Linked DNA regions of Homo sapiens. The protein of the gene in region 2 purifies or fractionates together with the protein of the main gene of each other region. This does not show direct contact. Each region holds a gene or a part of one and is shown on either strand. Other genes may lie near its edges.

The links.
Region 1: the proteins of RINL (region 2) and SUGP1 purify together in Homo sapiens (affinity purification with mass spectrometry; one large-scale study listed by BioGRID and IntAct). This does not show direct contact.

Annotation. Positions count from the first base shown.
Region 1 is NC_000019.10:19,296,500-19,300,315, forward strand, and holds part of SUGP1 (SURP and G-patch domain-containing protein 1), read right to left. Parts: intron 846-3,816; coding exon 490-845; intron 1-489.
Region 2 is NC_000019.10:38,871,502-38,875,317, forward strand, and holds part of RINL (ras and Rab interactor-like protein), read right to left. Parts: intron 2,488-3,816; coding exon 2,385-2,487; intron 370-2,384; coding exon 297-369; intron 211-296; coding exon 146-210; intron 1-145.

The DNA.
Region 1 (3,816 bases), about 20 Mb from region 2:
AGGCGGGCATGGTGGCGGGCACCTGTAGTCCCAGCTACTCAGGAGGCTGAGGCAGGAGAATGGTGTGAACCCAGGAGGCAGAGCTTATGGTGAGCTGAAATCGCACCACTGCACTCCAGCCTGGGCAACAGAGCGAGACTCTGTCTCAAAAAAAAAAAGAAAAAAGAAAAAAGAAAAAAAAGGCAGAATTGCAATAGGCCCAGCAATTCCACACCTAGGTATACCGACAAGAGAACTGAAAACGATTCAGATAGTCACAGCAGTATTATTCACAACAGCCAAGCAGTGTAAACAACCTCTGTGAATATAAGAGTTCATTCACAGATGAGTGGGTAAGCCAAATGTGGTATGTACACACAGTGGAAGATATGGCCACAGAAGGAATGAAATTCTGATACAAGCTACACTGTGGATGAACCTTGAAGACATTATGCTCAGTGAAAGAAGTCAGACCCTTCCAACACAGGGAGGGGGAGAGGGTCTGCCCACCTGACAGAGGCGAGGGAGAGGCATCCACGTCCCTCTGCACCAGTTCAGCAGGTGGGAGCTCTACCTTATCCTCTTCAGGCCCCCACCGGCTCTTCCGCTTCCTCTTCACGGTGGCTGCGGAGGCTGGCTTCCCGGGGGCAGCTGGAGCAGGGATGATAGTGGGCGCAGGCGTGGACGAGGCGGGGCAGGTGGTGGCTGGGGGTAAGGACCCTGACAGGGCCTCAGGAGGGGACTTGCGCTTCAGGCCGGGATCAGGTGCTGTGAAGCTGCCTGTGGAGCTGGCCTTGGCTTTCCGGAACTCCTCCAGCTTCTGTCGGTAGTACTTGTACCCTTGGCTATTGGGCTCATACAGAAAGCTGCAAAGGAGAGTTGGGGGGTGCAGTGTCAGCTGGGCCCGAGGCCCTGTCCCTGATTCTGGGCAGGAGCAGTTCTGGCCTTGTGTGCCCACGTTGGCCAGGGTCACTATATGGTCATGTCATAGTCACGGTCTCCACCATGACCTCCTGCCCTGCCAGGCCTCCTGGCAGTGACTGCTGGTTCTGGTGGCCCGATGCCCTTCCTTTGAACTGAGTCACTCCAATCCTCACCCTGTCTTTATCAGGCACCCATCACACTGTCATTGTTCACCCTGCTACAAAGGGAAAGGGCAGGGACCCTCAGACCCTTCCCCAGGGCCTGGGAAAAGTGAGACATTCACACCAAAAAATCTCAGATTGTGGGGAGACACCAGACACGAGACAGGGCAGAGGGACTTGTCTTGATCCCAAGGGCTTCTCAAATGCATCTTTGAGACAATGAACATCAGAACGGACCAAGGAGCTGATTTCTACCCCACGTGGGGGCAGGCAGCCTCAGGGAAGTGTGGCTTCCAGTGAGGCTGGGAGCACAGGTCTTCTCTGTCCCTACCCAGCCTGAGGAGCACAGCAGGTGGCGCTGGGTTCAGAGCCATGTTCCGCACCTACTGGCGCCTCTCGGACCGTACACATCCCCAGTCCACAGGACTGTCTTTGGGGTCTATGCCAAAAGGGAGAGTCTTGGCCCAGCTCCACATGGCAGAACACGGGAGAGAACTGAATGCATGTACAGCCCTGAAAGCATGTTACAGTGCTGAACAAGATGGGGCTGGACCTGCACTTGTGAATCTGGAGGGATGGTCATAGCACCAAGGCGTGCAACTAATGTGAATTAAAGGGTCAAGGATGCTGTGAAGTCCCTTTGTGTTACAGAGGCCGGGCGCGGTGGCTCACGCCTGTAATCCCAGCTCTTTGGGAGGCCGAGGCGGGCAGATCACCTGAGGTCAGGAGTTCGAGACCAGCCTGGCCGACATGGTGAAATCCCGTCTGTACTAAAAATAAAAAAATTAGCTGGGCGTGGTGGTACACGCCTGTAGTCCCAACTGCTCGGGAGGCTGAGGCAGGACAATCACGCGAACCTGGGAGGCGGAGGTTGCAGTGAGCCAAGACTGGGCCACTGCACTCCAGCCTGGACCAGAGTGAGACTCCATCTCAAAAAAATAAGATAAATAGTGAGCGAGCAGCAAGAGACCCCTTAGACAGTTTCTAGGTGAGCCTGTGTGTCTACGGCCCTGCTAACATCCGGTACCTCAAGAGGGTGGGACAGAAGGACAGGAGATGACAGCATCTTCTCTGTAATCCTGGGTCATGGTACACGTGTGACCCAGTGAGGAACATATGCAAAGATTAAGAGGTAAAAGCAACAACTGTTCAGGAGAGAAGGGAACAGTTGGTCAGATTTGGAAAAGACACTTGACAGCCGGGTGAGTTCAGACATGGATTTGAGAGGCCAAGCTGGGGAGGCTCACTTGCTAGGGCGAGCAGGCATCGGGGTGTGGGGGCCCCTTCCTGGTCTCAGCTGGTGCTTCACCCTGAGTGTCCTCCAGGATGGTCCAAGGATGCATCACAGTCCCCTGGAGGGTCTGCCCATCTCGGGGAGGGGGTTACAATGGCACTCAATGGTAGACCCCCATGAGGGGGAGAAAGTGGAGCCCCCCAACACCCCATCTAGAACACGGCTGGGTGCACCACCAAGGTTCCCCTCTGGTGGAACTAATCCCACCCTGAACCCAGGGATAACCACTGTTAAGGTGTTTCCTGCCAGTTTCAGCAAAGATTTATCTTAATAGAGCTGTGATCCTATACATATCCCAGTTTTAAAAAAAATTTCTGCCTCAAGCTGATGACATAAGCCTTTCCTATTAGAACAGTGGAAGCATGTTCACTGACTGGCCTTGCTTCAGTTCCCTCACACTGGGCTGCCAGCTCACATGGGTGCCTTCTGAAGGCGGCATACTCCACTGGGGAGATGTGCTGATGATTTAACCCACAGAGGTTGGACGCTGACTGTGTCACTGACTTTTCTTTTTTTTCTTCCTTTTTTTTTCTGAGACGGAGTCTTGCTCTGTCGCCCAGGCTGGAGTGCAGTGGCACAATCTCAGCTCACTGCAAGCTCCGCCTCCCGGGTTCAGGCAATTCTCCTGCTTCAGCCTCCTGACTAGCTGGGACTACAGACGCCCGCCACCACACCCGGCTAATTTTTTTTTTTTTTTGTATTTTTTAGTAGAGACGGGGTTTCACTGTGTTAGCCAGGATGGTCTCGATCTCCTGACCTCGTGATCCACCCCGCTCAGCCTCCCAAAGTGCTGGGATTACAGGCATGAGCCACCGCACCCGGCCTACTGACTTTTCATTACAGCTGATGCTCTATTGACATGATTTCCAGGATGTATCTCAGAAATGGGAGAATGACTAGTCCAAGGGATGGGCGTTTCCAGCTTTTCATTTTTTTTTTGTTTTGTTTTTCAAGATGGAGTTTCACTCTTGTTGCCCAGGCTGGAGTGCAGTGGTGCAATCTTGGCTCACCGCAACCTCCGCCTGCCGGGTTCAAGCCATTCTCCTGCCTCAGCCTCCCAAGTAGCTGAGATTGCAGGCATGCGCTAATTTTGTATTTTTAGTAGAGACGGGGTTTCTCCACGTTGGTCAGGCTGTTCTTGAACTCTCGACCTCAGGTGATCCACCTGCCTCGGCCTCCCAAAGTGCTGGGATTACAGGTGTGAGCCACCAAGCCCAGCCTCATTTTTTATTTTTTGAGATGGAGTCTTGCTCTGTCACCCAGGCTGAAGTGCAATGGCATCATCTCGGCTCACTGCAACCTTTGCCTCCTGGGTTCAAGTGATTTTCCTGCCTTAGCCTCCCAAGTAGCTGGGATTATAGGCACATGACACCATGCCCAGTTAATTTCTATATTTTTAGTAGAGATGGGGTTTCGCCATGTTGGCCAGGCTGTTCTCGAACTCCTGACCTCAGGTGA
Region 2 (3,816 bases):
CAAAGTCCAGGCCCCCAGCTCTCTCTAGTCTCCAGTTCTATATTCTCCTCAAACCCAGTAGTCTGGGCCCCAAAGCCCCATTCATTCCCTTGGAGCAAGGAAATTGGCAGGTTGGCTGTGCCCTCTTTAGAGAACCGTGCCTCACCTGTGTGTTCATCTCTGGGCCCTAGAGTGGGAGGGGGCAAGAGCAGGGTTCTGGGCAGAACATCCCTGAGAATAAAGAGGTGGGAGCCACAGTGTCAGTGGGGTGTCTTAGGGAAGGGTCCCCCTTAGTGCCTCAGATGGGTGACCTGTACCTGCTGGCTGATAGAAAGGCCAGGAGATGGGGCAGGTCTGGCATGCAGAGGTTGGAGGATTCCAGGGACACACCTGTGGTGGGGGGAGGAAGAAGGAGAAAGTAAACTTGAGTGGTGGCAGTTTTCTGTCCCCTGGGATGCTCTTGCTCCTCCATTCCTTCAGAATCCCCCCAGGGACCTTCAGAACAGGGAAGTTCCCACTCTTTGGAGTCTCCATCTTTACTCTTGTGTACCACTTATGCCACCAACAAGGATTCATTCATTAGACAAACATTTACTGAGCCCTTAGTCCTTTCTAGGCACTGGAGATACAGTTATCAAAAGGCAGACAAGTTCACTGCCTTCCTGTAGCTTACCTTTTAGCGGGGGGCGGAGGGGGAAAAGGCAGAATATAAATGAATAAACAGTCAGGGTACGGTGGCTCACGCCTGTAATTCTAGCACTTTGGGAAGCCGAGGTGGGTGAATCACCTGAAGTCAGGAGTTCGAGACCAGCCTGGCCAACATGGCGAAACCCCATCTCTATTAAAAATACAAAAATTAGCTGGGCATGGTGGTGGGCGCCTGTAATCCCAGATACTTGGGAGCCTGAGGCAGGAGAATCACTTGAACTCGGGAAGTGGAGGTTGAAGTGACCTGAGATTAAGCCATTGCACTCCAGCCTGGGCGACAAAAGTGAGACTATCTCAATAAATAAATAAATAAATAAATAAAAATAAATTTTAAAAACGAGTAAACAAAGTGGATATTGTATTGAGTGCTATGAAGAAAATGGAGTGATTGAAAGTGACCAAGAGGCCAGGCATGGTGACTTACGCCTGTAATCCCATCACTTTGGGAGGCTGAGGTGGGTGGATCACTTGAGGTCAGGAGTTCAAGCCAGCCTGGCCAACATGGCAAAACCCATCTCTATTAAAAATACAAAAAATTGGGAGGTGGGGGCCTAGGGGAGGGATAGCATTAGGAAGAAATACCTAATGTAGATCATGGGTTGATGGGTGCAGCAAACCACCATGACACCTGTATACCTATGTAACAAACCTGCACATTCTGGACATGTATCCCAAAACTTAAAGTACGATAAAAAATAAATAAATAAAAATAAAAATAAACCAAAAAATTAGTCATGTGTGGTGGTGTGCACCTGTAATCCCAGCTACTTGGGAGGCTGAGAGGCATGAGAATTGCTTGAACCTGGGAGGTAGAGGTGGCAGTGAGTTGAGATTGGGCCACTGCACTCCGCCTGAGCGACAGAGTGAGACTCTGTCTAAAAGAAAAAAGAAAAAGAAAGTGACCAAGGTGCCATCTTTTAACTATGATGGTCAAGAAAGGTTACATTTCTGCAGAGGCCTGGAGGATGGAGACTAAACCAGCCCCTCTAGGAAAAGCATTCATACAGGATGAACCCAAGCAGAGGTCCTGAAGCTGGAACACACTTAGCATGCTAAAGACACACAGAGTGTAACAGTGTGTATGGGGCAGAGTGAATGAGGGGCAATAGATAGAGAGACAGGAAGGAACTACATCACACAGCACCTTATAGATCATGACAAGGAGTTTACATTTTGTATCTAAGGACGTTGCATGCTCTTTGCAGGATTTGGGGCAGGGGTGTATAACATCTGATTGATACTGAAAAATATCTTGGGCTCAGAATGGATTGTGGGAAGGAAAGGGAGACAGGATTGGAAATATTCATCAGATATTTTGGAAACAAAGCTGACAGGTGTTTTTGTTTTGTTTTGTTTTGGCAGGGTTTCCCTCTGTTGCCAAGGCTGGAGGGCAGTGGTGTGATCTTGGCTCACTGCAACCTCTGCCTCCTGGGTTCAAGCTATTCTCGTGCCTCGGCCTGCCAAGTAGCTGGGATTACAGTCGCGCGTCACCAAGCCCGGCTAATTTTTGTATTTTTTGTAGAGACGGGGTTTTGCCATGTTGGCCAGGCTGGTCTCAAAATCCTGGCCTCAAGCGATCCACCCGCCTCGACCTACCAAAGTGCTGGGATTACAGGCGTGAGCCACCGCGCCGGTCCAGCTGATAGTTCTTAGTGATCAATTGACTGTGGGCTGGAACCTCAGGGGAGGTGCCTTACCTCTGGGAATCTTCTGGATCTGGTAGGTATTGACTTCTCCTGGTAAAGGTCCTGACCTCAACACCAGGGCCTGGCTGGGGTCACGTCCTGTGACCAAGAAACTCTGGGGGATAGAGACAAAGGCCAGCGTGACAAAGGTGTGCGCAGATGTCTGTTGCTTTTGCCTGACTAGCATCCATTTCCCTTATTTTGGGTTCCACACCCCAAATTTCCTTTAGGGAAACCCTCTCCCTACTTTCAGTCCATGTGTGTTGGGCTGACTTCCCCCAAGCCCTGGCGGGGTGGGCCCATGACCTGATCTAGCCAACAGGATGAGGGTGCTCTCGGCCCACTGTTTGGTTCAGGGAACAGGCATGTGACTCAAGCTCAGCCAATGGACATCTTCCACAGGATTTTTTTTTTTTTGAGACGGAGTCTTGCCCTGTCGCCCAGGCTGGAGTGCAGTGGCACAATCTCTGCCCACTGCAACCTCCGCCTCCCGGGGTCAAGCGATTCTCCTGCCTCAGCCTCCCAAGTAGCTGGGATTACGGGCGACTGCCACCACGCCCGGCTAAGTTTTTGTATTTTTAGCAGAGACAGAGTTTCACCACATTGGCCAGGCTAGTCTTGAACTCCTGACTTCAAGTGATCCGCTCTTCTCAGCCTCTCATAGTGCTGGGATAATAGGCGTGAGCCACTGCGTGCTGGAGCTCTTTTGGAAAGACTTCATTTGTTACACTGGTGTTGCTAAACTGGTGGGATACAGCTCTGAGCTGGGAAGGATGATACCCTCCTGAGGAGGAAGCTGTGGTAGCCCCCGTTTGCTGTCGTCTCCAAACCTATTCCACATTCCTTGCAGAATTCCTTGTTCACGGCATTAATATACCCAGCCATGAGTATGATTGATATATGGATCATGATTGATATAGGTGGTGGTTCTTAGCTCTGGCTGTATACGTCCCAAGAGAGCTGTTAAAAATATTGCTACAGCCGGGCACGGTGGCTCACGCCTGTAATCCCAGCACTTTGGGAGGCCGAGGCGGGTGGATCACCTGAGGGCAGGAGTTCGAGACCACCCTGGCCAACGTGGTGAATCCCAGTCTCTACTAAAAATACAAAAATTAGCCGGGTGTAATGGCGGGCGCCTGTAATCCCAGCTACTCGGGAGGCTGAGGCAGGAGAATCGCTTGAACCCGGGAGGCAGAGGTTGCAGTGAGCCAATATCGTGCCACTGCACTCCAGCTTGGGTGACAGAGGGAGACTCCATCTCAAAAAATAATAATAAAAATAATAAATAAAAAAATTAAAAATATTGCTACCTGGGCCCCATCCTTTTTTTTTTCTTTTTTCTTTTTTTTTTTTTTTTAATAGAGACTGGGCCTTGCTCTGTTGCCCAGGCTGGTCTTGAACTCCTAGGCTTAAGCGAGCCTCCTACCTCAGCCTCCCAAAATGC